4 separate regions of the Homo sapiens genome follow, and all the other regions are reported to be linked to region 1. The links are microRNA targets in miRTarBase. Many come from high-throughput screens and were not tested one by one. Region 1 holds a microRNA gene; each other region holds the end of a gene's coding sequence. Distances are between the middles of the regions.
Evidence for each region. Region 1 holds the annotated microRNA hsa-miR-582-5p (UUACAGUUGUUCAACCAGUUACU, at 3,318-3,340, opposite strand). A microRNA usually pairs through its seed, bases 2 to 8, with sites in the 3' UTR of a target mRNA and lowers its output. Matches are read on the target gene's strand: a 7mer-m8 pairs with bases 2 to 8, a 7mer-A1 pairs with bases 2 to 7 and ends in A, and an 8mer does both.

Region 1 (5,000 bases):
TCTATAAATCATGCCACAAAGGTTAAAAAATTAAATAACGACATAGGCCTTTTATTACAATCAAAATGGGTAAGAATGTGACTTTGCAGAGATTAAATAAAACAGCTATCTCTTCATGATTCACATTTATTGAATACCAAAAATAATATGGGAGAAAAAAATCACGTAGATTTCACACCTAATAAATGAACAAAGAAGGAGAATAAGTGTATAGATATCTTATATAAATGTATAGGCATATTTACTTATCTATTTACATGTATTTACATGCTAGATTTCCCCACCAATGCCATGGACAGAACCTCAATCCCCTTATTACTTCCAAAATTTACACTGCCTATCCCCAAACCTCACCTTCTTTGGTCTTATTTATCAATTACCAATATCAACTCAGTAAATGACTGGTCCCCTTCTCCAGTTGCATTCAGATCACATGCCAATCATATCCACTAAACATTTATGAAATTAGCATTCTCCTCTCAATCCCGTAGAATCACAAAGCTAGCTCAAGCCTATGTGATGTTTTGCCCAAGCCACAGCAGGAGCCACCTTTTACATTCCCAGCCTTCAATCTTGCCACTTACATATTTATTCTCCATTCAGCCCCTAGAATCTGATCTTGTCACATAATTGCTTGGAATGCTTCATGGTTTGAGGATGAACCCAAAGTCCTTAACCTGGCTCACAAGGTCCCCAGAACCTAAACCTTATTTATCTCCAGGCTCATGTCTTGTCACTGAACTACTAAATCATCCCTTCATCACAAATACCATGGGATTCCTTGCATCAGTGTCTCTGTTCCTGCTATTCCTCTCTCCCTGAAATGCTCTTCCTATTCCTCTCTCCACCCTACATTCATTCTTTAAGACTCAGTTTAGGTCACACTTTTCACCCCAGAAAAGGTTAGGTTCTGCTTTTTGCCACTCCCATAAAATCTTCTGCATAGTGCTAATCACGGCACTCACTACACATTTTCCCTGATAATCTACGTAAATATTTGCTTCCCCTGCTCCAATTTGAACTACTTTAATCTAAATTCCCTGAGAAAAGGTTATTATTTGTATTATTTATGTTAGTGTCTTCAGTATACCTAGAACATAGTACTGTAGATACCCATACAGGTTTTGTTAAATGAGTGAATGAGTGAGTGAGTGAATGAATGCTTTTCTCTAGAACAATTAATACTGAAAAGCAAATGTAAGCACAATGGAGAAAATGCCATTCCTTAGAATTCAAGAATGAGTGTGAGGGATAAGCCCAAGGAGTTTCACAATTATGGAAAGTCACACTCAGACAGTGAGAATAGAAGTGCTGGTTGTGGAAGGTGAAGACTCCAAGAGGAGCAACACAGAGGTGAGGAGATGGTACCAGCAAGACAAGAAGGCTGTGTGGTGCATAGTTGATGTGAATCTTCTTCACAACTTCTCAAAGCTTTAGTACAGTTCACACATGCTATGTGTTCTTGGATCCCTTGTGAAAAACAGCTCAATTCCTCTACAGCTTTGCATCCAGACCTGAGGCCCAGCAGAAGGTAAAAACATATAAGATGGACACAGAGTTCTGGAGGCAGAGAGTGGCATAAAGGTGTCAGGTGTGGCACTAACATAGAGGTCATGGCAAAAGTTAATCACATTTCCAAGGGCCAAGAAAGCACTGGTCAATAGAAATATGACAGAAAAGAATGAAGAGGGAAGCTAGGTGAAAGAGGTTTTCATACATCAACAGCAACATCACCTGGAAACAATTTTTGATTAGTTAGGCACTTACTAATTATTCCCTGCTTTTCTTTTTTTGAGATGAAGTCTCACTCTGTCGCCCAGGCTGGAGTGCAATGGCACAATCTGGGCTCACTGCAAGCTCCCCCTCCCAGGTTCACGTCATTCTCCTGCCTCAGCCTCTCAAGCAGCTGGGACTACAGGTGCCCACCACCACACCCGGCTAATTTTTTGTATTTTTTAGTAGAGACGGGGTTTCACACCATATTAGCCAGGATGGTCTCGATCTCCTGACCTTGTGATCTGCCTGCCTCGGCCTCCCAAAGTGCTGGGATTACAGGTGTGAGCCACTGCGCCTGGCCAATTATTCCCTACTTTTAAAATAAATTATAATCGTGCTGAGAGAATAAAAAAATTAAAGGAAAGAGTTCAGTGAGCCGTGATCATGCAACTGCACTCCAGCCTGCTCAACAGACAACAAACAAACAAAGTTATCATTCAAAATGTTTCCCATGGCCAGATGCAGTAGCTCCTACCTCTAATACCTGTAATGCCCGCACTTTGGGAGGCCAAGGCAGGAAGATGGCTTGAGTCCAGGAATTTGTGACCAGCCTGGGCAACATGGCGAAACCTCATCTCTACAAAAAATACAAAAATTAGCTGGGTGTTGTGGCACATGCCTGTAATTCCAGCTACTTGAGAGGCTGAGGTGGGAGGATCACCTGAGCCAGGAGAGGTCAAGGTTGCAGTGAGCCATGATGGTGCCACTGCACTCCAGCCTGGGCAACAGAGTGAGACCCTGTCTCAAAAAAAAAAAAAAAAAAAAAAATTAGACCAAAAAACAAAAACCCAAAAAGCCAAAATGCATCCAAGTATCATAAGTGAAAAAGTGAGCTTCTTAGCAGCCAATATGCAAAGGGAACATAATCTCTTACACAGTTTGGAATTACTCAGAAAACGTGGAACTGTCTTCAATCCTAAAGCGTCACATAGAAATGTTCCCTGAGTCTCACTGGGACAACACACTGAGCAATAGCTTTACCAGAATGTTTTGTGAATATGGTATGATATCAAGAGTAATAAAGTTATTTTGGAAAAAAATAACTTTAGAATAATCACTTAAAAGTCTGCTGTTTTTGACCATAATTGCACATGGATATATTGCCTTATATAAACTACAAAGAATTGTCTATTTCACATCACATTTTACAACTTACATTGCAAACCTCACTTCAGCCTTGAGGTACAACTATCAATAAAAGAAACAGGTCTTATTTTTAAAACTTTTTATTATTCATATCCTTGGTGACTTTCAGACAATAATTAACATGTGGTTAGTATCACCTTAATGGAGGAAGTACCTTATACTTCAAACAACCCTTACCAAAAGAACAGATAATACATATGTATTGATACAGCATTACAAATTGATGATAATTCAAAAAGGCACCATGTAGCTTGTACTTGAGAAGGAATTTTCCCTTTGCATATTGAAGGGGGTTCTGGTGGTGTTTTCTTTGTCCCCAGCCGACTTCACAATGAAATGTTTCTACTTTGCACCCTTTGGGTTCAGTTGTTCAACCAGTTACAATTAGTTAGATTAGTAACTGGTTGAACAACTGTAATCAAAGAGCACAGATTGACTTGTTGTGGTCTACTAGAGAGAGATTTGCTAGTGGTGTTCAGCAGGGCTCTGTCTGTCCTCTTCAATGTGTGCATGAATGACTTGAAGCAACATACATACATTCAAGAAAAATTCATTAAACATTGAATCATCATCTAATATTTGCCTGCTATTATGACAGGTCCTGAGGGAACCAAGAAAATGTCAGTTACATGGCTCTGATGCAAAGCTGGGAAGAAGGAGAAGGAGTCAGAGGTAGAGGCAGAGAGAGTAAAAGAAAGAGGGAGAAAGTGAGAAAGTGAGACAGAGAAAGAGAGGGAGGCCATGTTACACAACAGGAAATGTAACACATGACCTCCAGCTCGAAAAATTTGAATAAAAAGATATTTCAAGGAGTGCGAGGGAGGTAACCCTTACAATTATTAGAATGAACATTTACTCATTGTCAACACTATGGAGCACATATTTGGGAATTCACCTTTATTTATGCCACACAATATTATGTAGGTGACAAGCTAACCCGTCGTATTTAACAATATAAACAAAAACACAAATATCCTACTTTATTAAACTGAAAGCAGAGGACTCTCATCTCCCCAAAGCCCAGGCCATTCCCTGATATTAGTAAGGATACTAGGTGAAACTCCTTCTTTCAACATTTATTGTAATTAGTGAAAACATGCTTAATGGGACACCATCATCTACAATGATGACACCATATCTCAAATCACTAATCTTTCTGCCATGGACAGATTTCTGTATCAGGGGACACCTTTGTCATTTTGTCATCCAAATTTTGAGGATTCTTTTTCAATTCTCCAGCATTGACTGAGAATTTAAATGGTGCCAGCATTGTGCTGGAAACTGGATAAAAACTGAGATAACACACTTGAGTTCCTACTCTCAGAGAATCCACTTATTGGATTGCTTTGCTATAATTCCTGAATCCAGTGAGATTAACTGGTATTTTCTGTTGTTCAAAAAACTACTTTTCCCCTTTTTGTACAGATCAGCAATAAACATTTACATCGAGATTGTGTGGTGTCCATGAACAAGGCATTCAGTAGGGTCCAAGTCTAGACTTGAATGGCGTCTCTCACATTTTTGACTAAGAGACAATGTAGACATAAAAGTATCATAATCCAACTTACATACAAAATGGAAAAAATGGAACCAGAACACCTTAAAATGTTTCCTTTGAAATATGTGTGTGTTTCCATCAGGTTTATTTTAGTTCTCTAAAACTCTGTAATACTGAATACTCCAACTACCAATATTAGTCAAAGCTGTTTAAAACCAGCCTTCCCTTATTTACAAAAGGCAGATTTTACAAGACAACTATCAGGGATAAACACAAAAAGAAATGAAAACTGTTCCATGTCTAGCAATTCGCCAGAGTAAACTGGCTGTATATTGAACACAGCTGTTTCTGTGAGGGATTTTTCTTTTTTTGGAATTTAATATTGACTGTGCTCTTGTGGCAAGAATATAGTAAATGAAAGATTGTTCCAGGCCTGAGAAGAAGAGAGGCCAGAAACAATTGTTCCCCTAGGTCCTCCCCTTCCTTAATAACCAAACTGTTGTCTGGAGCCTCCTTGAGTTAAAAGCCTACCATTTTTCATGTCAATTACACACAAACAGGACTTTTCTTGTCACCTTCC
Region 2 (8,025 bases), not on the chromosome of region 1:
GTCTGCGTGGTCCTTCCATGTAGCCCCAGAGCTTAATATCCAGTAAATAGCGGGGGCTGAATGTATGTCTTTTGAATCAATGAATAAAAAGTCATCTACACATTTTGTTAGGCACGCTTCTCTTGTAAAGTTGTCTTTTAATTAGAAAACATATCGTTTCTGAACTGAAGGTGACATTAGATAAGGAGGAAGCATGTGCTGTGTATCACCACCTCCCCCCTGTAGAGATGGTTAGAGAACACCAAGAACGCAAGAGGAAGTTGGAGGGAAGAAACTTAAAACAAGATTTTAGCCAGGAGCGGTGGTGCATGCCTGTAGTCCCAGCAATGCTTGAGAGGCTGAGGTGGGGGAATCACTTGAGCCCAAGAGTTTGAGACCAGCCTGGGCAACATAATGAGACTCCCATCTGTTAAAAAAAAAAAAAAATGGGGGCTAATCTTGCTAACAATTAATTTGGAAAACTAAAACAGATTGGATGTACTATTTCATGCCTACTTAAATTGGAATGTTTAAGCAGGTACAGCTGTCTATCAGAATAATATGTAAGCAATATAATTGAGAAATATAAAATTTCTAGATTGAATGAAAAGGCATATTTTAAATAATATGAAGAGAGCAATTATATTGTTACAATTATGTACAACTTATGAATTAACAATTGGAAGAAGCAATGAAAGAATAATTGTAATTACTGAAAGGACTTATTACTATTATTTGGGGATGGAGTCTCACTCTGTCGCCCAGGCTGGAGTGCAGTGGCATGATCCCGGCTCACTGCAACCTCCACCTCCCAGGTTCAAGCGATTCTCCTGCCTCAGCCTCCCGAGTGCTGGGATTACAGGCACGTGCCACCATGCCCAGCTAATTTTGTGTTTTTAGTAGATACGGGGTTTCACCATGTTAGTCATGCTGGTCTCAAACTCCTGACTTCAGGTGATCCACCTGCCTCGGCCTCCCAAAGTGCTGAGATTACAGGCGCGAGCCACCATGCCCGCCCAGGACTTATAAATTATTATAAAAATGTTTTTGAGTTGGCTAAAATATCTTGCTGCTTTTGCTGCATTTGAACTTAATAACTGGATCTAAATTAGACTTTGGTATAAAGTATGAGGTGATCTTCCGGATCTGTTGTGCACTTAGGTATGCTTGCTTAAACCCTGTTTTGCATTTTTCAAAGAATAGCGAGTTTGTGTCTTGAATATACTTTTGACTTAAGTGTAGTTAAATTATAGGAATGCATAGCTCAAACAGTCCAGAGATGGCGAGCTTACCCCAGAGGTGGGCTAGGAATGCTTAGGTTTCTCAAATCAGTCCTGAGAGAACAAGCTTGAATTCCACTAAACAGACTGGATAAAGGAAATTATGGAAAAGGAGACTCAAGACTCAAAGGTTTGAAATAGAGATACTTAAGAGAATGGTGATATCACTGATATTGAGAGAAACAGAAATTAGTTGGTAGTGAAAGATTTTGAGTTATGTACATATTTAATTTTAACATAATGGGATAGCCAATTAATAGTTGAAAATACGTAATTGGAAGTCAAATGAAGGCACTCAGGGATAAAGAATTTAATATAGCAAACATTTAAGATGAATTGATAAGAGGCATTTAAGAGGCAGCTTTCAAATGATCTGGGAATTCTGGTCATTTTAAATACACATTTCTGAAAGAGTTCTTAATGCTTGCATACTGACTTTTGTCATAGAGTTTATACTCTTGGGTTCTTATTTGTTTGCATGTTTACATATAATTTCAAAATAAGTGCTAAATAAATTGTCCTTGATAATAGCCTATGTGCTTACATAGAAATACTAATTGTAAAATATCTGTAGCAATAAAGTAATTCTTATCTCCACTCCACATAGTGAGTAAACATGCTACCAGGGAGATCACTTGAGGAAATTTGCTTTCACTAAATGTAAATGGCTTTATTGATTAATCTCATCAGTAAACGCAAGTGAAAATCATTAATGATATTTAGTTTGCAAACCCCATTTTATTCATAGTTTGTGGTTTTTTAAATTAGTTCACAAATCTGGTACATACCGGCAGTTAAAACTGGTTATCACTTTGATAATCAGAAGCCTCTGGTGTAACATAGTCTTCATGAAAACATATTGTAAAACAGGGAGAATACACAGTAATAATCTCTTTGAAAGCAATGGCTGTAAACATCCATGTTTCTAAGAAAATATAACTTTACATATATATGTATTTTAAGCAAGCTATACCTCTTACATAAATTCAGACAGTAGAAGGAGTGTGCAATCATAATGCTTATTTTATGGAAACAGTGAAAATAATTTTAATTATGACCTAAATGCTTTTAAGTAATTAAAGTCCTCTTGAATTGGATGTATAGTATAAAGATATTTTCCCTAATTTGCAACCATCCTGGTCAAAAAGAGCTGAAAAGTTGGTCAGTAAGTAGAAGTGCCATTACCAAGTAAGTTTAAAACAAATTCTTCAAATTTAAAAATGTAAAAATTGTAAAGTATCCCAATCCCCCCAGCTAATTTAGGGAACTGAGCAAGAAGAGAACATTCTTCAGTTTTTAAATGACTTTTTTTTTTTTTTTTTTGGAGATGGGGTCCTGCTCTGTAGCCTAGGCTAGAGTGCAGTGGCATGATCAGCTCACTGCAACCTCAAACTCCTGGGCTCAAGCAATCTTCCCACCTCAACCTCCTGAGTAGCTGGGACTACAGGTGTGTGCCACCATCCCCAGCTACTTTTATAATAAAATTTCTATGTAGAGACGGAGTCTTCCTACGTTGCCCAGGCTGGTCTTGAACTCCTGGGCTCAAGCAGTCTTCCTGCCTCGGCCTCCCAAAGTGCTGGAATTACAGGCATGAGCCACCACACTCAGCCTTAAATGAAGATTTTGTAAGGAATTGAGCATTCAACTAAACTCGTTTTTGTGAGATGGTCATTTTGTTTTAACCTAACATGGTTTAGAGATTATTTTATGAACTCTAAGCATTCTGGTTCCTCAGTTTTCTCAAAGAAAGAGAACTTTAGCAAGTAGCAGGACAAGCTACCCCACACCAATGCCACCAGGCGACAATACTATGAATAAGTCAGGAGGCCTCCTAGAATGCAGCCAAATAGGAAACTGTTCCAAACAGAATCAGTCTTGCATACTTCTGCTCAGAAGGCTCCTCTCGCTTTGGAAACTGGAATGAGGATCACCAACAGGATCCTCATTTTACACAGGAGTTATGAGAGTTACATCCTCTAGCAGAGATGCTTGGTCATTACCTGTGGTACATGAGATTACCGAGCTAAAAGGGAAAAAAAACGATCTTAATGTTCTCCCATGAACTCAACTTAAGCTTTTTATGGAGGCACTGAGGCCATGCAGCTCCTTTTCCAAAAGACACAGATAAAAGCCAAATAAGGTAGAGGACTTTGGAAATTTTCTCTGAAAAGTTAAATTCCACATAATAGTAAGACTGTTTGCTGAGAGAAAACTGACAAGTAAAAACTGGTTTAAGAGACAGACATTCAAGACAAACTGTATTGGAAATACAATAATGAATTTTGGCCTGATAGCCCTCATGCTGTCTTATAGCAAAACACTAAAATTCATGCAACAGAGAAATTGGTGACATGAGGACTTTTTCTCCAGACTTCCTGGGGAAAAACTGTGAGAATATACTTTTTTCTTCTGTTTGCTTTCGAAATGCATTCTTTCTTTTGCTGACTTTCCCAAACTTTCCCAGTCGTTTCTGATGAAAAATTCTTCAATAGGAAAAGACCAGGTAAACTTACATGAAAGACATCAAGTATCTTTTGAGCTCCTTCTCTCTGCCAGAGGAGCAATCAACTGGATTACACAAAACTACCTTCACAACTAAAACAGGTAGAATTGGAACAGGAATTAGTTGTCATTAATATACTCGTAATAAAATAAAGCTTGTTCTGAAACCACAAGGGGTGGTAAGAAGAGACTGTATAAAAGCTACTGGGTTCTCTAGAAAATGGATACAGTATACAGAATGTGAGAAGATACAGAACTCACACTCCAGTTATAAAAATAGACATGGTTCTCAGACAAAAAGCAAATGAGTACAAAAGAATTCTCCAAACGTGAACTATTTTTAAAAGATACATCTATATAAAACAACAAGATGTCATCTCAGAGCTCCAAAGAGTAGTTTGTTGAAATGGCTGAAAAGGGGAGATGAATTGGAGACAGATAGGTCAAGAACCCAGAACAGATGTGTCCTACTCTTGTGTTTGGCAGTGTACATTGGAGGTCACAGGCAGATAGACTGCTTTTGGTAATACATATATAAATAATAATGGCTGACTGGTTGATGGTGCTTGATGGATGAATGAGAAAACCCAGGTTATCAAATAATCTCGGTAGTTGAACTGTTAGCTTCTTCACTTGACAATGTTGCACATCAGAAATGATTCTAGGTTTTTTTTACCCAGAATGATCCCTGCCATTCACAACTCATGCTCCACGCCCCATGGTTTCTATTGTGCCCTAAAAGATCAGCCTAGACTAATACATAAATAGAAAATAACTCTGGCCTTGAAATGAGGGGCAGACAAGTACTTCATGCTCAGTACTTATAAATCACAAAGAAATGCTGAAATTAATGGTCTGTCTCCTTTTACTACAAAGGAGATGCCATGAGTTAAAGTCATGAAACAAAGAAAGTCAAAAAGATATGGGTAGCAGCACCTTTCCATACCCGCCTGGATTTTCAAGGAGCTTTTCACTCCTTATGCCTTTCAAACAAAAGTTCATCAGTTTGAAGAAAAAGAAATGGCTCTAAAGTTAAAGAGTCCCCAGAGAAAACTAACAGTACATGAAATAGGCCCTATGTGGGCAAAAGGACAAGCTGCAGAACCAGTTAAGACAGAAGAGGCAGCCCAAGGTCTTACTAAATTACAGTTTTAGCATAGTGTAGCACAACATGGGCAGCCCTTTTTCCATCCAAGCAACAATTCAGCACCATCCACGTCTGGTTCAAAAGATTACTGAAGTCTGGGCTTTCATCTTTGGTACCACCTCATGAGTTATTCTTGGTTTGCAGTAGGTTCAAAGAAACAGAAAAGCTGGTACCTTTGCCTTGTCTGTGAGTACAAACGCTGGGACTCTGATTGCTGCAACCATTGAGGCCAATTAAAATAATACTGTAACACACAGGAATGATGCATCCAATTCCTAATTTCCAGATAATAGCAGCCATGCCCCTACAGAGGCGGGATCATCCATCCCCATCGTTTAAGGCCTTCGGTTTGTTGTCCTCAGAGTAGAATAGAACACTGTGTTCCCACGGACAAGGAACTCCAGATGAACCCATGGTCTACATTTGGACAGAATTTTAAGTACCAGATATGCCAGGCACAGAAAGAGGACTGACCTGTGGCCATCATGCTTGGAGAAGCTTCTGTTTTGGCACACAAACTAGAAACTTCTTAGTGTATTCTGGTTTTAGTTCCCTTTCCTGAGTGAAGCAGCCAGGGAGTGACCAGGTTCCATAAGCCCTCAATCTGATACTTGGCATTAATTCTCTCCATGGTCTTCTTCCACCCAAGCTACAATTTTCCCTTCCCATCCAGGGATGGCATCATCATCATGGAAAATCTAGAGAAAAAAACAAAAAGCCACAGTGAAAAAACAGGGAATCTGATTCACTAAACAATTGCTGCTAATAAAAATAAGACCTCAACCATGTAGAAGAAAGCCTTGAGTTAAGAGTCTATGTCCTTTTGGTCTTGTCCCTAGAACTGCAACTGATATTTTATTTTTTTCTTAGATCCACATCTATGAAATGGTTTTAAAAAATGCCTGATACTACTTTGCTCATAGAGATTTGTAAGAATTAATAAATTACCAATCACAAAGTACTTTGGGCTTCTTAGAGGAAAGATGTAGTGTTAAGTATTTTAAAAATGAGAAAGTGGAAAATTTAGTTACCAGGCAATGTAAAGAAAGGGTGGGGAAAAAAGACTCATTTTAACACATTTCTCAGATGCAGTTATTTTCATTAATTCATTCAACTCATTTCCTAAGCCACTAATAAAACAGGGTTACTAAAACATTTCACTGAGGAAATGTTTACAAAATAAAATTTTACTTTCTCTATAATAACTTTTTTCATTCTGTAACTGCAGTGAATCCACTTGTAATACTATATAACCCAGAACTGTATTCCCCCAAAAGTCTATCTTTGACAAATGGATTATAAAGAGACGCGTAGGCTAAGAAAATACTTACTCAAGGAGTTGGGCATAAGCATACATAACTCCCTAGAAGTTCCTTGATTTCATTATGAGAAATACACAGTTCCATATATCCATGCGTGTTTATTTTGCTCTACATAGGAAGCAAGAAGTTTTCTAAGATTTGGCTGCAGATGGAAAATTATTTATTGTCTTAGGTTCTTTATTTTCCCTAACAAAATAATTTAAAATAAAAATTATATCCAAGTTCTCAGTCAAATGATGAAGTCCTACAACTAAAGAACCTATCAGCATCTTGGACTATTCTATGACCACTTGTCTAGAGTAATCAGACCATGGTCTGAGGCTCTGGCAAATTCTTCTGACCTAGTCAGGGAACTCATGTACTTCTGGACACTAGTGCTTGAACAGGAGGCTTCAGGGTTCAGAAAGGACCAATAATACCATACAGACTCCCCACAGATTCTTTACCTCCTCTTTGACAGTGCCAAACTCAGGATCCAGTGCTTTGAAGTGATACCGGTGATTTCCTTCCCGATCAATAGCTGCTTTAAAATCCTTTAACGTCACCTCCTCCAACCTGCAACACAAGGAGAGAGCACTAAAATAGACTGTTGATCAATAGCTGGAAAGATAAGATGTTAACTTTAAACACAGCCCCCTGCCAAAGTCAATAAGCAGAAATAGCCCCTTGTTAGGTCACTGCCCCGATAACCCAGATGACTAAAACAGCAGAGGCTGGAGAACCAGTCATCACTAGGGAATGAAAACAGTATTAAATATGGGGTGATGTGAGAATTTAAAATTGACTTATTGCTTCAGAAGCCAAATCACTTTTCTCTGGAAATAAGATATAAAGTCCCTGAAATAAAATTTGTTGAATAACCATAAATATATCAAAGTTCTCTTGATTTTCTTCTTTGCTACAATATCCCAATTCTCTAGGATGGTAGAATCAAATCAAGTATCATGATCTTTATCCCTCTATCTTTAGGAAGCTGGCTTCTAACCCAGACTAAATAAGCAGACTAAGTAAGAAAAATCCTATAACCTCTCTCAATAGTTGGTTGCAGAGTTTAAATATTTCTATTTCAAAACCATTTCCCTTAAAAGGAAGCACATTAACTTTCTGGAAGGTTTTTGACATAATTTCTCAATAGGGATTAGCTGCAGTCATTGAATAGTAACAAAGATCAATTAGTCATAGTCCTGGAGTGAGTGCCAGGCTGCAATCCATTGTATCAGCAGGAGCTATTTTGAACACTTAAAAAAAAAAAAAAAGATTTTCCCAAATGCAGAGCCATATTTGCATAGTTATCAGGATTGGAAGTACTATTATTGTACCTGTATCTAGTAGTAGATCATGACTTGTCCTTTATAATACCACTGAATAGTGGCAAAGCTGAAACTAGAATCTGTCTCTCTGGCTTATCTCACTATAGTGAGATCTCACTATACTGCTTCTCAAACACCTTTCAGCTGCTCATGTGGGCAGTAACTAATGAGGTTCTGCCTTCCTTTCCTTCTTTACAGTGAAATACAATGATCCCAGAATCTCACCTCTTTGGTATATTGACCATGAAGGGCGTAAGTGACCGGTCAGTGAAATAGAGCACTTTAGTACAGGTGCTGCTGACAGTTGGAGAGCTCTGTGAGTGAGGCAACTCTACAATCAGAAAGAGACTGTGGTTAGAACATTCATTTGCTCTAAACCAGCCATCTGCAGTTATTCAAAGTGTCCCGGGAGAACAAAGCTGCCTGAGGTCACAGCCCACAGCTCTCACACCCTTGCCAAACACAATGTCCATATGCTATGGTTG
Region 3 (8,025 bases), not on the chromosome of region 1:
ACAATGGCTCACCTGAGGTCAGGAGTTCGAGACCAGCCTGGCCAACATGGTGAGACCCCGTCTGTAGTAAAACTACAAAAATTAGCCGGGCATGGTAGCAGGCACCTGTAATCCCAGCAACTTGGGAGGCTGAGGCAGGAGAATCCCTTGAACCCGGGAAGCAGAGGTTGCAGTGAGCTGAGATCGCAGCATTGCACTCCAGCCTGGACAACGGAGTAAAACTCCATCTTAAAAAAAAAAACAAAAAAAACAAAAAAACCACAACAAACTTTTACCCCAAATCTAAATGATAGAAATCTTTGTTCTTTTCTTTCTAGACATATGGAAAGTTGATCATGTGCTGGAGCGCTTGCAGAGTGAAAGCCTGGTGAACAGAAGGAAACCATGTCATGAACATGATGCATTTGAAAATATTGTTCATTGCAGCAAAAGTCAGTTTCTGTTAGGGCAAAATCATGATATATTTGACTTACGTGGAAAAAGTTTGAAATCCAATTTAACTTTAGTTAACCAGAGCAAAGGCTATGAAATAAAGAACTCTGTTGAGTTTACTGGAAATGGGGACTCCTTTCTTCATGCTAACCATGAACGACTTCATACTGCAATTAAATTCCCTGCAAGTCAAAAACTCATCAGCACTAAGTCCCAATTCATCAGTCCCAAGCATCAGAAAACACGAAAATTAGAGAAGCATCATGTGTGCAGTGAATGTGGGAAAGCCTTCATCAAGAAGTCTTGGCTAACTGATCACCAGGTAATGCATACAGGAGAGAAACCCCACAGATGTAGTCTATGTGAGAAAGCCTTCTCCAGAAAGTTCATGCTTACTGAACATCAGCGAACTCATACAGGAGAAAAACCTTATGAATGCCCTGAATGTGGCAAAGCCTTTCTCAAGAAATCACGGCTCAACATACATCAGAAAACACATACCGGAGAGAAACCCTATATATGCAGTGAATGTGGAAAAGGCTTCATCCAGAAAGGAAATCTCATTGTACACCAGCGAATTCATACAGGTGAGAAACCTTATATATGCAATGAATGTGGAAAAGGCTTCATTCAGAAGACGTGTCTCATAGCACATCAGAGATTTCACACAGGAAAGACGCCCTTTGTGTGCAGTGAATGTGGAAAATCCTGTTCTCAGAAATCAGGTCTCATTAAACATCAAAGAATTCACACAGGAGAGAAACCCTTTGAATGTAGTGAATGTGGGAAAGCCTTTAGCACAAAGCAAAAGCTCATTGTCCATCAAAGGACTCATACAGGAGAGAGACCCTATGGCTGTAACGAGTGTGGGAAAGCGTTTGCGTATATGTCGTGTCTGGTTAAGCATAAGAGAATACACACAAGGGAGAAACAAGAGGCAGCCAAGGTGGAAAATCCTCCTGCAGAGAGGCACAGCTCATTACACACCAGTGATGTCATGCAGGAGAAAAACTCTGCTAACGGGGCGACTACACAAGTGCCTTCTGTGGCCCCTCAGACATCATTAAACATCAGCGGCCTCCTCGCAAACAGGAACGTAGTCCTTGTGGGACAGCCAGTGGTCAGATGTGCAGCCTCAGGAGATAACAGAGGATTTGCACAGGACAGAAACCTTGTGAATGCAGTGAATGTGGTTGTGCCTTCCGTGATCAATTATGTCTTATTTTATGTTACAGAAAACCCATAGGAAGAAAACTCAGATCTATGTGGAAAAGGGTTGAGCAAAAATTTGTAGTTCATTATGTGGCCGAAAAGCATACACTGAGAGAACATGTATAAGGCTGAGATAGCCTGATAAACTCATCCTATTAAAATGTATGCTGTGATACACAGGCAAATTTGATGTTAACCTAAGCACATACACAGCAATTGCTCGACTGTGTCAATTAAATGAGTAAAGGAAGCCCAAGTACTTTTAAGTGGAGGAAATGAAGTACTGTGAATTTTTAAAACAGATGAGATAATTGGTGTCGGGAGTGTTGCAGTGACTGAAAAGCTTCATAAGGGGCAGTTGGTGGGAAAGGGCTAATACTGTAATGGTGGAATGTGGGACACATATGTGTCAATTCAGTTTCCTTAGACCAGTGCCAGTGTGGAGGATTAATTGAAAACCAGGACCATAAACTTTCAGAACTTTGTATTATGCAGAGGGATCTGTGAAACTAGTCAATTTGTTTCATTAAACAAATATTTTAAAATTATTTCCTTTGTACCTTGTCCTGTTCCAGGAGCTGAGGTCAAAGAAGAAAAAGTTTGTGGTCTCCTGGAGAGTTTGTGGGGTTAATTTTAAGTGGTATCATTACACTCAGGCAATCTAGTCAGGCGGTGCAAATATCTACATTAGGTGAAATGGACATGGAGTAACTGTGTCCAGGGGACGCGATAATTTATTGTTCAAGGAGTAGCAGAAGGACTGCTGTTAATGGTACTTAAGCACCTTAGTACAAAAAGGAGGGCTTTTTGTTTGTTTGTTTTTGCCCGTGTCTTATCTCTCCAAGAGATTACAAATTCCCTGCTAAGTTTTGTAGCTACTTAAATTTTAGAATTAAAGAAACTGAACACAAAATTTAAAAATTCAGTTCCCTCACTGCTCAAGAGCTGTATATGTGAGTAGAGGCTACTAAACTGGACAGCAGAGTGAACAGAACTTTCAGACAATGAGGACTCTTTGTCATTATTTCCAACATCCCAGAAAGTTATGCTGGAGAGGCTGCTTTGCATGATCTAATATTTCCCAACACATAGAAAAACAAAAACTAATTATGTATTGATTTGGAGAGAGAATGATTTGGAAAGAGAAGCGTATTTTGTCATTGAAGGGAATGACAGTTGTAAAGAATAGAATTGTCACTCACAACTTTTGTGTGATTAGAAAGACTTAGCCAAATATAAAAGGGGCAGAGCAGAAAAGGAAAAGGACTCTTAGAATAAGTAGAACACAAAGGAGGAGGAAAATCTTAGTCTCTGAGAATGGATGAGACTGTAACAGATGGGAGGAGGTGGGTTTCTTTTGGGACGTCTTAGAGATGACGCTTTTATTTGTCCATAAGACCTATCACCCGCTAGGGTTACCATTTCAGAGATCCCAGCTTCTCTGTGACCTGCTGAACTGAGATGTGATTTTTCTTTTCTTTTTTTTTTTTTTGAGACATGATTTATCTTCATCATTCTCACTTTTCTGGGAGTAGGTCTCTTGGCCTTCTTTATCTGGTTTTTTAACCTTCATCCCATATGGATACACTGTCCAAGTTACAGTAAGTGCTGCTCATAGGAAAATAAATGGAAATTTGCCTTGTGGCTAGGTCAGAATTCAACAGAAATCCTGGGTTACTAGGTAACCTTTTTTTTGAGATGGAGCCTTGCTCTGTCGCCCAGGATGGAATGCAGTGGCACGAACTCAGCTCACTGCAAACTTTGCCTCCCGGGATCAAGCGATTCTCCTGCCTTAGCCTCCCGAGTAGCTGGGATTACAGGTGCCTGCCACCACGCCCAGCTAATTTTTTGTATTTGTAGTAGAGATGGACTTTCACCATGTTTGCCAGGCTGGTCTCAAACTCCTGACCTCGTGATTCACCCACTTCGGCCTCCCAAATGCTGGGATTACAGGCATGAGCCACTGCGCCTGGCCACTAAGTAACTTTTATATATCATCACTGTGCAAGGCACTGTTTTAGATACAGTAGGATGGATCGGTGAACAATACAGGCAAAGGAATAACCTTTATAAACTTTACCATTGAGTGAGGCAGAGAAACAGATTGTACGATGTTAGGAAGGAGAAAAAGACTAGTAGTGGATACTAATGCATACGTAGTGATGGGGGCTTTTAAAAATATGTTATTTTTTTTCTCCAAGGGAAGGCTTTTCTGGATGTAATTTGAGCCAAGACCTAAGTGTACTGAGGAGAGCCTGTTACAGCATTTGTAAGCACAGAATACTCCAGGAGTATTTGTAATTGTCTGTGAGCTTCTTGCCGCAAGTCTCTCAGAAATTTAAAAAGATGCAAATCCCTGAGTCACCCCTAGACTTCCTAAACCAGATCCTCTGGGGCTGGAACCTGGCACTCTGCATTTGTAATGAGGGCTTTCTGGTGCACACCTAATTTTGTGCATCTTTGCCCTAAATCCTGGATTAGTGCCCCATCATTACCCCCACATTATAATGGGATAGATTCAGAGCAGATACTCTCCAGCAAAGAATCAGAAATGGGCGCTCCACCAACCAGGCCCTATCCACATCTGGCCTTTGTGAATCTGCACATCCTTCCATGGTAAGGTCAGGTTGCTTATGCTCTATCAGGGTCTAAGGATGAGTTGGCCAGGCCTACCCTGAGCAATTGCTTAACGTACCTTTCAGAGCTTGACCTCCCAGATGAAGGAGGCTCAGTGCATACCTAAGCTTGGTACACATCATGTCTGCTCCCAAACCCAAGATCCTTATAGTTTCACTGAAGATCACCCTTCATCTGCTCCCATGACCTCAGTCCCTCCTGGGCCAAGAGGCAGTCCTGCATAGTGATTTGGAATGTATCCTGAAGTCACACTGCTTAGTTTGAATCCTGCCCTGCCATGCCCAAGCCATGTGCCATAGAGCAACTAATTTACCAAGGTCTTGACTTTAGCTTTAAAATATCTGCCTCAGGTTTGTTGTGAGAAGTAAATGTAAAGTCCTTAAAACAGTGTCTAGCAAGAAACACAATTAATACAAGTAATGTTATTAGTCCCAGTGAGGGGAAGAGGAGGAATCAAGAGTATAGGTGTGCCTGAACTTAATCAAAACTGTGACTTGATGACAAAAAGGTTGCCACGCACTGAGCCAAGGATTCCTCATATAGCATACTTTTTAAGCTTAATAGAGCTGTGATTATGAAACTCTCTAGCTTTAAACTTTGAAACTTGCAATGACTGTTCTGCTTGGGGTCTGGACAATGGCAAACATCCTTAAAATGGCCATCAAGTCTGCATGTTCCGGTTCTTTCTTCCCTCTCCCATACTCCACCTTGCTCTCCCTGTTCTGACACACTGGCCCTCTTTTGGCCCCTCATATGCTGCTGACATCCTTTCATCACCTTCAGGCCTCTGTGCATGCTCTTTCTTCTGCCTGAACTTTTCTTTCCCCCCATTTTCTGCATTTTTCCTCCTTCAGGATCTTCAAACATCACTAATTCAGAGCAACTTTCCCTCACCAGTCTGGCCTTCCATAGGATCGTGTTCCTCTTCTTCCTAGCACTTAGGGGAACTGCAGTTTAACATTTTGTAGATTTCCATGTGCATTCCCCATCTGGATTCTAAACTTCCTGAAGGCAGAGAGTGTGGGGAAAAGAAAGAGAGATCAGACTGTTACTGTGTCTATGAAGAAAGTAGACATAAGGAACTCCATTTTGTTCTGTACTAAGAAATTCTTCTGCCTTGAGATGCTGTTAATCTGTAACCCTAGCCCCAACCTTGTGCTCACAGAAACATGTGCTGTGTTGACTCAAGGTTTAATGGATTTAGGGCTGTGCAGGATGTGCTTTGTTAAAATGTGTTTGCAGGCAGTATGCTTGGTAAAAGTCATCACCATTCCCCAGTCTCGAGTACCCAGGGACACAATGCACTGCGGAAGGCCACAGGGACCTCTGCCCTAGAAAGCCTGGGTATTGTCCAAGGTTTCTCCCCACTGAGACAGCCTGAGATATGGCCTCTTGGGAAGGGAAAGACTTGACCCTCCCCCAGCCCGACACCCATAAAGGGTTTGGGCCCTGGAGGATTAGTAAAACAGGAAGGCCTCTTTGCAGTTGAGATAAGAGGAAGCCATCTGTCTCCTGCTCGTCCTTGGGAATGGAATGTCTCAGTGTAAAACCCAATCGTAAATTTTGTTTACTGAGATAGGAGAAAACCGCCTTATGGCCGGAGGTGAGACATGCTGGGGGCAATACTGATCTTTACTGCACTGAGATGTTTGTGTAAAGTCAAACATAAATCTGGCCTATGTGCACAACAAGGCACACACAGCACCTTTCCTTAAACTTATTTATGACACAGAGTCCTTTGCTCACATGTTTTCCTGCTGACCCTCTCCCCACCATCACCCTATAGTCCTGCCATATCCCCCTCACCGAGATGGTAGAGATAGTGATCAATAAATACTGAGGGAACTCAGAGACCAGTGCTGGTGTGGGTCCTCTGTATGCTGAGCGCCGGTCCCCTGGGCCCACTGTTCTTTCTCTATACTTTGTCTCTGTGTCTTCTTTCTTTTCTCAGTCTCTCATCCCACCTGATGAGAAATATCCACAGGGGTGGAAGGGCTGGCCCCCTTCAAGAGAGCAGGTCTGTTTTTTCCTCATCATTTCACCTCCAACATTGGGCACTAGATCAGGCACCTCGCAGATGCTGAGACAGTATTTGGTTGAATTAAGGAGTGTTGCTCCAACAGCTTTCAAGCTACTTAGCTGCCAAGTGGCAGGCTGTAGATTCAAATGTTTTCTGGCATCTAAAACTTTTTTTTTTTTTTTTTGCTTGGAGGGTTTGTTTTATTTTATGATCTCATCCTTAGATTACCCTGTGATCAGCCTCCACTCCTAGGGCGATAGAGACTCTACTGGCTGTTTATTTTTACTCTGAAATAGTTTGACTAGGTCACATAGTCATGCGATTCAAAACTTAAAGCTGTACAAAAAAGCACATTTGTGAATATCTTATCCTGTTCTCAATCCTAGTTTTCCCCTGACCTTCTAGCTTTTACAGGTAAACATGTTTACTGTGAATCCGTCCAGTGTTTCTTTTTATAATACAAGTATATATTATTTATTTGTCCTTTTTTCAAAAGGTGGCATACAGCATACACTCTTTTGCATCTTTTCTATGTTTTGTTTGTGACGGAGTCTTGCTCTGTTGCCAGGCTGGAGTGCAGTGGTGCGATCTCAGCTCACTGCAACCTCCGCCTCCCAGGTTCAAGTGATTCTCCTGCCTCAGACTCCTGAGTAGCTGGGACTACAGGCACGTGCCACCACAGCCAACTATTTTGTATTTTTCATAGAGATGGGGTTTCACCATGTTGGCCAGGATGGTCTCTATCTCCTGACCTCGTGATACACCGCCTCGGCCTCCCAAAGTGCTGGGACTACAGGTGTGAGGCACCGCGCCCAGCTGCATCTTTTCTATGTTTAATTATCACTGAGCAGCAGCACAGCACCTTGAGGGTAAGTGAAGAAGGAAAGACTGTAGCCTGTCAGCCAAATATGGTTATTTGTTCAATAGTCTTATTATTGAAGTGCTGTGTTCCAGTTTTTGTTCTGAGCACTGGGGCTAAAAATAAATTATAGACTTCTGCCTTTGTGGAACTCACAGTCCATTCTGAACAGCAGTTAAGTGAGCAGATGATGATGATCAGGAAAAATGATCTTCAATTATTCCCGGAAGAGAGATGCTTCCTCTATTTCCCTATTGAATGCCTTCTATAGTTCCCTTCCTTAGCCCCACTTAAGAGTTGCAATTTTATATTTAATGATTGCATTATTATAAATAAGACAAAACTGAGAGGCATCCCAGAATGCTGTCTGAAGAAGTGACATTTCAAATGATTCATGAAAGGACAAGTATAGTAACTAATATTCCCTCATGTTTTCCTGTGTGCCAAACACTTCACAAGAAGGGAAAGTACTTGCAAATTCCTGGTAGCGTATAAGACCACAAGATACCTCAGAAGGGGCGGAATAAGAATCAAATGTACAGCATAGAGTAATGGAACCTGAGAATGGAGAATCTGGTGTTTGCTTGTGTACAGCTGAAGGGGGCCAGCCCCTCCACACCTGTGGGTGTTTCTCGTCAGGTAGGATGAGAGACTGAGAAAAGAAATAAGACACAGAGACAAAGTATAGAGAAAGAACAGTGGGCCCAGAGGACCAGCACTCAGCGTATGGAGGACCCACGCCAGCACTGGTCTCTGAGTTTCTTCAGTATTTATTGATCACTATCTTTACAATCTCGGTGAGGGGGATGTGGCAGGACTATAGGGTAATGGTGGGGAGAGGGTCAGCAGGAAAACACGTGAGCAA
Region 4 (8,025 bases), 56 Mb from region 1:
ATTGTGGAGTAAATATATATTTCAACATCTAAAGTGCTTTATTATGGAGTAAACATATAGTTCCACATCTAAAGTGCTTGTACGTTGCCACTTACAGATAAGGAGTTTTTTTAAAAACACAATTTGAGGCTTCAAACAATTGAGTTCTGATCTCATTGGCTGTTACAAAAATCTTTTTGAGAAACAAATAAGTTTTATTTGTTACTTTACCCAGAGAGATTTTAGTTTTACACAGTTCTATTTTATGTTATTATAGATATATATTTTCTGTTGTACTTTTTCCTAGAAAAGTTTCCTAGTTTCTAGAAAACAAAGCTTAATGTTGCTTTGTACCCTTTGTAGTTTTAGAATAACTATATGGATGTAATATGACAGGTGAAATCAAGTTTATTTTTTATAGTCTGAAAGTCAAAGGAAAGTGAGCCAGAAGAAACCTAAGTATTTTCTGAAAAGGCCTAAAAGGTGATCAACATGGGCCTCCATTAGTTAAATAACATTTTCACAATGGCATTGAGTAAGCACAGCTATTTGTCATTTCTGTTTTGAAAAATAAGTGATACTGTTGTAAGTAAAGCTTTTTCTTTAACTCTTTTGACAAAGTTTGATGTGGTAAGATGTGTTGAACTTTTTGTTGTTGTTGTTTTGAGACAGGGTTTCATTATTTTGCCCAGGCTAGAGTGCAGTGATATAATCATGCCTCACTGCAGCCTCAACCTCCCTAGGCTCAGGTGAGCCTCCCACCTCAGCCTCCCGAGTAGCCGGAACTACAGGCGCACGCCACCATACCTGGTAATTTTTGTATTTTTTGTAGAGATGGAGCTTCACCGTATTGCCCAGGCTGGTATCGAACTCCTGTGGCTCAAGGAATATGCCCTTCTCGGCCTCCCAAAGTGCTGGGATTACAGGTGTGAGCCACCACACCCAGCCTGTTTTGAACTTTAATAGCTCTTAAGGCCATAAATGTCGGCCAATTCAAAAATAGAAAAAAATTTTGACTGGTACAAAACTGTCTTTTTAATGTTCCTATAACTGCAAAGCTCTGAGCTCTTCAGAAGTCTACATAAGACTCCTAGGCAGGAATGGCCATGTGATTTCATTGGCCACTTTAATAGAAGAGGATCGCTGCCCCCTGAAAGATGGGAAACTAGTGAGCCAGTGCAGAATTGTCATGGTATGAGCACTCATATTATTTCAACCAAATAGAATGTGAGTTTGTTTTTATTGTCAGATCAGATATTTTTACAATGACTGACATTACCCTAAATAGGAGGATTAAATATGGCACAGCATTCCAGAATGGATTATTTTTGCATAAGCTCCTTTTATTTAACACAATGTTAGGATAGTACTGCATATGGTTTAGGAACTTTCAGAGGTAAAACGTGGAGCGAGGGATATTGCAACTTAGATTCAGAGTTTTGTTTTCGTTTTAAAGAAAAAAAAACTTAATGATATAGCATTGAAGCTACTCGTTTTCATGTTCTCTAGTAAGCAAGAGGGGAAACTCCCCAAAGTGAGAAGTCTTACATATGACTGCTGCTACTCCTGTCTTTTAATCACAGAGGTTATGGACAGTATCAGCTCTTCAGCTGGAAACTGTTTTCCTTTGTTAATGATATTTTCATGAATAAAATATTTTATTTTGATCATCTGAGTTTTTTTTTTAATTGGTGTTTGAGGCTTTGAGAAAGCAAATATTTTTAAAACTATATTAGCATTTCTCTAAACTTACTTTTAATGGAGTGATGGGCTGGTAAATATGTGGCTAAAATATTCTGTAGAATGTACAAGTAAGAATGCCTATTATGATGTTTTAAATGCCTTCTTTTCAGATGCTTTGCATGCATACTTTGGGATCTGTGGCCTGTCACTAATGGAGGAAAGTGGAATTTGTAAAGTTCATCCTGCTCTGAATGTAAGCACACGGACTTCTGAACGCCTTCTAGATCTCCATCAAAGCTGGAAAACCAAGGACTCTAAACAATGCTCAGAGAATGTACATATCTCCACATGACTGATTTTAGATTGGGAGGGTGGGGGGATTTGTAGCATAACTGTAGCTCAAGTTTAAAAGCCATGTATAACCAAGTGTGCTCTTTTTTTAAAAGGTAGAGTCTTACAATCAAATCTCCTGCTGATTTCACTTTGGGATATGGTCTTGAGCCAGTAATCTTTATACTGGGTTTCAAGAAAATCTTTGTTGAAGTTTGAACCACAACTTTGTCGTGGTTCTTAAATGTTTATACTGTATTTCTAAGAAGTTGTTTGAGGCAAATTAACTGTATGTGTGTAGGTTATCTTTTTAAAAACTCTTCAGTGCAAATTGTATCTTATTATAAAATGGACACAAATTTTCAAGTTTACACTTCATATAGCATTGATAATCTTCAGGTGAACACTTAGTGATCATTTAAAAAGCTCACTGCTGATCGTAGAAAATTTGCTTTAATTAATTAAGTATCTGGGATTATTCTTTGAAAACAGATGACCATAATTTTTTTTAAAGAAGAGTGACTTATTTTGTCTTATTCTTAAGTAAAGTGTGCCAATTAAACCTGTGTGGCCTATATAAATGAAGTTAATAACTTCATAGTAAGAATAAATAGGTTTAACTAATGTGATAGTTTTCTAAAAGGAGATTGTTTGAAGACAACTATTATGTAACTGAGGGAAAAGCAACTTAACTGTATGTGATTGTGAATGAGAAAGTTTTGTGCTATGTGGGTCATTTATCTAGACATTGCTGTGGTGAATACCAGTTATGTTTGATTTTATTCTCAAATCATTAGTTGCCTTTTTTTTTTTTTTTTTTTTTTTGCTTTCTAGGAAGAAAACAATCTTTTTTATCTAGAAGGAAAGATACTTTGTGTTTTCATTTTTAGCCATTTGAAGTTTTTAATTTATTGCCCCCAGTGTGTTAGCTGCTCTAATTTCAAACTAATACTTTTCTAATTTTTTTCAAATTAAATAAGTAAAAAATACAAAAACAGAACCATTCAAACAGATTCAGTGGTGTAACTCAATACATGGTCATTTTTATTCTCATATTTTCAGGTAAGTGAAAGGGAAATGCGACCATTTAGAGGGTAAGAAATAGGGTTTTGTTTTTGTTCATTGTTTTGTTTTAAGTCTATGAACTAGCTAATTATAAAGGAGGTAGTATAAAAACTCTTCATTAGTAATTAATTTATCAATAACTCATATCCGTTACTTGCTCAGTGACATTCAGAACTATTGCGTCTAGTACTGAAATGGGGAAAGAAATCTCTTCACTAAAGGAGTTGGCTTTAAGTTAGTCTTGGTGATAATAAATGTTGAAATACAAGTATCAGTATAAAAACTGGATTACTGGTATCACTGTTTAGGCATTGTAATACTTTAAATGTTATCTTTTTTTCTAAATCAGAGGGAAAAAAATGTTGTGAAATAACAGTCCTTCCCAAGGGAAACACTGTGTACTTGGAGAAATGATTGATTTATTATTGGCATGCTTAGTTTTAAACCTGAGTTTGCCAACTGTATGTTTTTTAATTAGAAATAAAATAAATCTTCTGATGGTGGGGGAAAAAGTAAGCTTAATAACAGATGTTATCCGTCTATGGGTTATTCCAGTTGCTACTATTTAAATCCTGGCAGATTAAGACATCCATATCTCAAACTAAGTCATCTCTTAGACATTGGAAGTTAAAGTAGCATATATATAATGGCTTTAGGACTATATAAAAAGCCCAAATTGTTTTTTCTGTATCACCAAGAAAGGTTAGAAGGCAATAAAGGTAGTAACAGTGATTTTATTCATAAATGTTAGAGAAAAATTCCAATCTAAAAGTATTTCATAAGGCTAAATATTTTCTAACTCCTGATAATTTAATACCATAAGATTATAAATTTTAGTATGCTTCTAATTGATACACTTGTGGGAGACTTTCTTGTGAAACTTTATGGACTAGTAAATGTTCACATTCCACAGCAACTGAATTGACCAGAAAATAGCAGCCCAGTGTGAATTGTGGAGAAACTATTTCTAACTTTTCTAAATAGTTATTTACAAGAAAAGCATTTATCGATTAAATAAATTATAAGCAATATTTCACATATACACTTTATTCCTTAACAGGAGCGATGTAATGAGGGAAAATACGAAGTCCGAAATCTCAAAAAGCTCTGTTACCTACTCTATACTTGTCTCCTTCCCGCCCCCTAATTTTGTGGCATTTTTTTTTTAGAAGGTAGGAGGAGGAGCTTTATTTTGAGCATCTGTGTACAAATGAGATTAATCAGATCATATGGCCTAATTTAACCTGTTTATCATTTCAGTGTTTTTAGATTTGATCTATAATATATATGTGTTATTAGATCTTTAGTTATTTATATTTAATCTAAATTCATATAGAAATCTTGCTGACAGTGGTATATAATTTGAAAACTGTTGGACCTGATCATTTTTGAGAGACAGTTAATGAGGAGGTGCTCTGGAATCAGATGACCTGGGTTTAAATCCCAGATTTGCCAGTTCAGCAGCATGATCTTGGACCCTAACTCTGCCGTGGATAAAATAAGGGTAAAACCTAACACACAGGGTTTAGGATTAAATGAGATAATACAGATAAAGCACTTAGGATAGTACCTGGAATACAGCAAATTTCAAATTATAGGTTCTTTATAATGATCATAAAATTATTTTTGTAATTAAAACCTCTCTTCTACAACAGAAAGAGGTCTTAACAGTTTAACCTCAGGGAAAATGATGACAACAGTGTTGTTTTCTAATCTCCCCATAAGAATACAGAGCAACTAGGATAGCCACAGACACTATTACAACGCTAGATGACAAGGTATCTCTATGAACTTCAAAATACAACTAAGTGAGGACAAACCACTGAACCACATAGTTTCAGTATCTGTGGGAGGAAGTAGAAGGAAGGCAGCTGGTTTCTGACAGCTCTGCAAATTGGAGAACTACAACACTGCCCACAGTTTCTCAACTACAAAGTGCAGCGGGCCAATCTAAGAACAGACACTGAAACTGGGAAGTGACTACAGAATCTCATTTGCAGATGAATGTTAAAGCAATATGATAAGGTCTGCTGATTGCATTAGAGCTGTCTGGGTTTTACGCTGTGTACCTCTTGAAGCTTATGAGACAAAGCCCAGCACTGAGGACAAACTTCTAGAATTAGAATCCAAATGGGCAGGATGGGTAAAATAGGACAAAGGAAAGAAGATCTAGATAAGTATTGGGAAGAAAGGCCAAGACACAGAGACATTATATATGTGTATTTTCATATATATATATATTCTTTTAAATCACTGTGAAAATGGGAGCTCTAAGGCTGTGAAGTCATCCTAGAGCCACTCCTTCCTCCTAAAAGTACAGAAAAACTCATTTCAGTTAAGGGGAAAAAAAGAGTAAGTGAGCCAGGATTACAGTCCAACTCCAGTCAAAGTTAGTATAAGAAATAAGAGAATAAATAGATCAACATCCTCACAGACAATGAAAGCACACCGGAAGGACATGACCACAAGACAGATAAAAACCTAATATTTGCCAAAAAATAAAATGCAAATATGACAGGAAATTTATATTAATTAGTACAGTTATCAATAAAAGTAGGAAAAGGGGAAAATTAACCAAGTACCAAACACTTGGAGTAAAAAGCAAAATAAAGCAGAAGGAAGGAATTAATAAAAGCAAAAAAGAATTACTAGTAGAAAACCAAAACAATAGAGGCAATAATAAATCCAAGTTGGTGATGGGTAGTGCGGGGAGTTGAGTCAGATAAACTACCAGCTAACCTATTTAAGAAAAAAAGGAGGAAGCACAAATACAAAAATTTAAATGACAAGGGGGAAATAGTAAAACAGGAAATTTGTTTAAATTGACTATTTTGAGCAATTTTACACAATAAATTCAAAAACTATTTTGAGAAAAATGCAAATTGCCAAAATTTACTCTAGGTAGATAAAGTCACAACAAACCAATTACCGTAGAAGAAACAAATAGTTAAAAGTACCCCTTACCAAAAGAAGCATCAAGCCCAGATTGTTTCAAGGGGATTTCTACCAAACCTTTTAAGATTAAATAATCCCATTCTTGCTTAAACAATTGCAGAGACTAGGAAAAGAATCTTGAACCTCAAAGTGCCAAAAAAAGAAAAAAAACAAATAAAGAAAAACTCCTGAATTCATTTTATAAAATGAATGTAATAGCATTGATTCAAAAACCTGACAAAGATGGTACCAAAAAGAAAATATAGAGCAATCTCATGAATATTAATAAAAAGTTTTAATGATAACATTAGCAAACAATCCAACAGCACTTTCAAAAGGTAATCATGACTAAGTTGGGTTTATTGTAAGAATGCAAGGGTAGTTCAATACTAGATAATCTGTTACTATTCATATTAAGAGTTAAAAAATATCTTCATCTTTGCAGAAAAGACATGATAGAATTGAGCACTCACTTATGTTAACTATACTAAGTAGAAATTGATGAATAATCTATTAACATTGTACCTCTACCTAAAAGCCAGCATCTTAAATTTCAAAGCAAAGGAGACTTTCCAGCTGAAGTCAGGAACAAGACATGCCCACTAACTCCTCTGCTACTTAACAATGTGTTGAGAGTTATAGCCAATGAAGTTAGACAAAATAAAGACGTGAATTGGAAAGGAAGAGGTAAAACTATTTGCAGATATGAATATGTATCTAGAAAGCCCAAAGGAACTTGTTGAAAAACTAAACAATAAAAGAACTTAGTAAAGTAGCTATTAAATACAATTTACATAAAAATATCAGTAGGCTTCACCAGACACAAGTGCATACTTTGATTCCATTTCGGTGAAGTTCAAAACAGACAGCATCTATGTATGGTGTCAGAAATCAGCACCCTCTTTCAGTCACTACCTCTCTTCCCAAAGGTAAGTGCTGTCAAAATTACCATCAATTAGTTTTGTCTGTTTTTGAATTTTATATGAGTGGAACCATATAGTATACATTATTTTTCAACTGGCTTTAACTCAGTAGGACTGAAAGAGGGTACAAGGGAGACTCTGCGGTGCTGGTAATGTTCTGTTTCATGATCTAGGTGCTGGTTACGTAGGTGCATTCACCTTATGAATATTTATCAAGCTGTATATGATTTGTGCACTTTTCTGTATGTATAATTATAGCTCAGTAAAAATGTTTACTAAAAAGAGTAACAAGACTATATATATATATATATATATATATATGTATGTATATGCAAACCTAAACTAGTTAGAAGATACTTGAAGAGAAGACCACCTTTGTGATAGCAAAAGTAAAAAGAAAACTTAATGTGTAAATTTAAGACACATCTAAAATCTGTATGAGGAAAACTAAAAAAACTCTTGAGAGGCAAAAATGTAGATTCCACCAAATGGAAAGATACATGATATTCTTAGATAGACAACATCAAAACATGTCTTTCCCCACTTAGGTTCATTTATAAATTCAGTGCCATTCCAATAAAAATTATATTGTTATTTGAGAGAACATACTAGAATAACCATGGAAACTGAAAAGAATTAGAGGGGACCAGCCATATCCGACACTAAAACATACTCTAAATCCTCCATGGCAGAAGCTATCAGAATTTTTTAAAGTGTGCACACTTTTTGGCCCAGATACTCTCTATCTATAGATTTAGCATAAAGAAACATGCAAATAGGCAATGATACATTTTCAAGGATCTCACAGCCACATTTTTGTAATTGTGAAAAATAAGACACATTATGATACATTTATGTAACTCAATACTATGCAACTGTTAAAGTATGGATATTGGAAGGCATTCGTAATGTTGAATAAATGAAAAGTTTTGTATTGGCACATAAATAGGAAGTCCAATGGAACAGAAGAGGAATTCCAGAAATAGACTCAGTGGCATTTAGAATACAGTAAAGGCAGCATCTCAAGTTAGTGAGAAAATGAACTTTTAAGTAAGTGCTATTGAGATTACTGGTGCTTAATTATTCAGATATTTACAATTTTAAAAAATAT

Region 2: miRTarBase lists DIXDC1 as a target of hsa-miR-582-5p. Seed matches in the 3' UTR shown: 8mer at 4,905-4,912.
Region 3: miRTarBase lists ZNF350 as a target of hsa-miR-582-5p. Seed matches in the 3' UTR shown: 7mer-A1 at 2,022-2,028.
Region 4: miRTarBase lists PGGT1B as a target of hsa-miR-582-5p. Seed matches in the 3' UTR shown: 7mer-m8 at 2,053-2,059, 7mer-m8 at 2,278-2,284, 7mer-m8 at 2,683-2,689 and 7mer-m8 at 3,515-3,521.

The regions. Positions count from the first base shown.
Region 1 is chr5:59,700,349-59,705,348 of GRCh38, forward strand. It overlaps MIR582 (microRNA 582), which reads right to left and starts at 3,355; the gene lies at 3,258-3,355. The region is part of intron 1 of PDE4D (phosphodiesterase 4D); the gene reads right to left.
Region 2 is chr11:112,016,537-112,024,561 of GRCh38, reverse strand. DIXDC1 (DIX domain containing 1) reads right to left here. Exons shown (of 20, transcript NM_001037954.4): 18 at 7,766-7,871; 19 at 6,677-6,785; 20 at 1,909-5,606. The coding sequence ends at 5,526. Among named protein-coding and RNA genes, the nearest start is that of DLAT, 4.9 kb to the left of the region's middle. RefSeq lists enhancers at 3-192, 7,595-7,644, 7,665-7,714.
Region 3 is chr19:51,958,507-51,966,531 of GRCh38, reverse strand. ZNF350 (zinc finger protein 350) reads left to right here. Exons shown (of 5, transcript NM_021632.4): 5 at 318-2,192. The coding sequence ends at 1,678. All of the region lies in intron 1 of ZNF350-AS1 (ZNF350 antisense RNA 1), which reads right to left. Among named protein-coding and RNA genes, the nearest start is that of ZNF350-AS1, 13 kb to the right of the region's middle.
Region 4 is chr5:115,206,391-115,214,415 of GRCh38, reverse strand. PGGT1B (protein geranylgeranyltransferase type I subunit beta) reads left to right here. Exons shown (of 9, transcript NM_005023.4): 9 at 1,833-8,025. The coding sequence ends at 2,014. Among named protein-coding and RNA genes, the nearest start is that of TRIM36, 40 kb to the right of the region's middle. RefSeq lists a silencer at 5,048-5,157.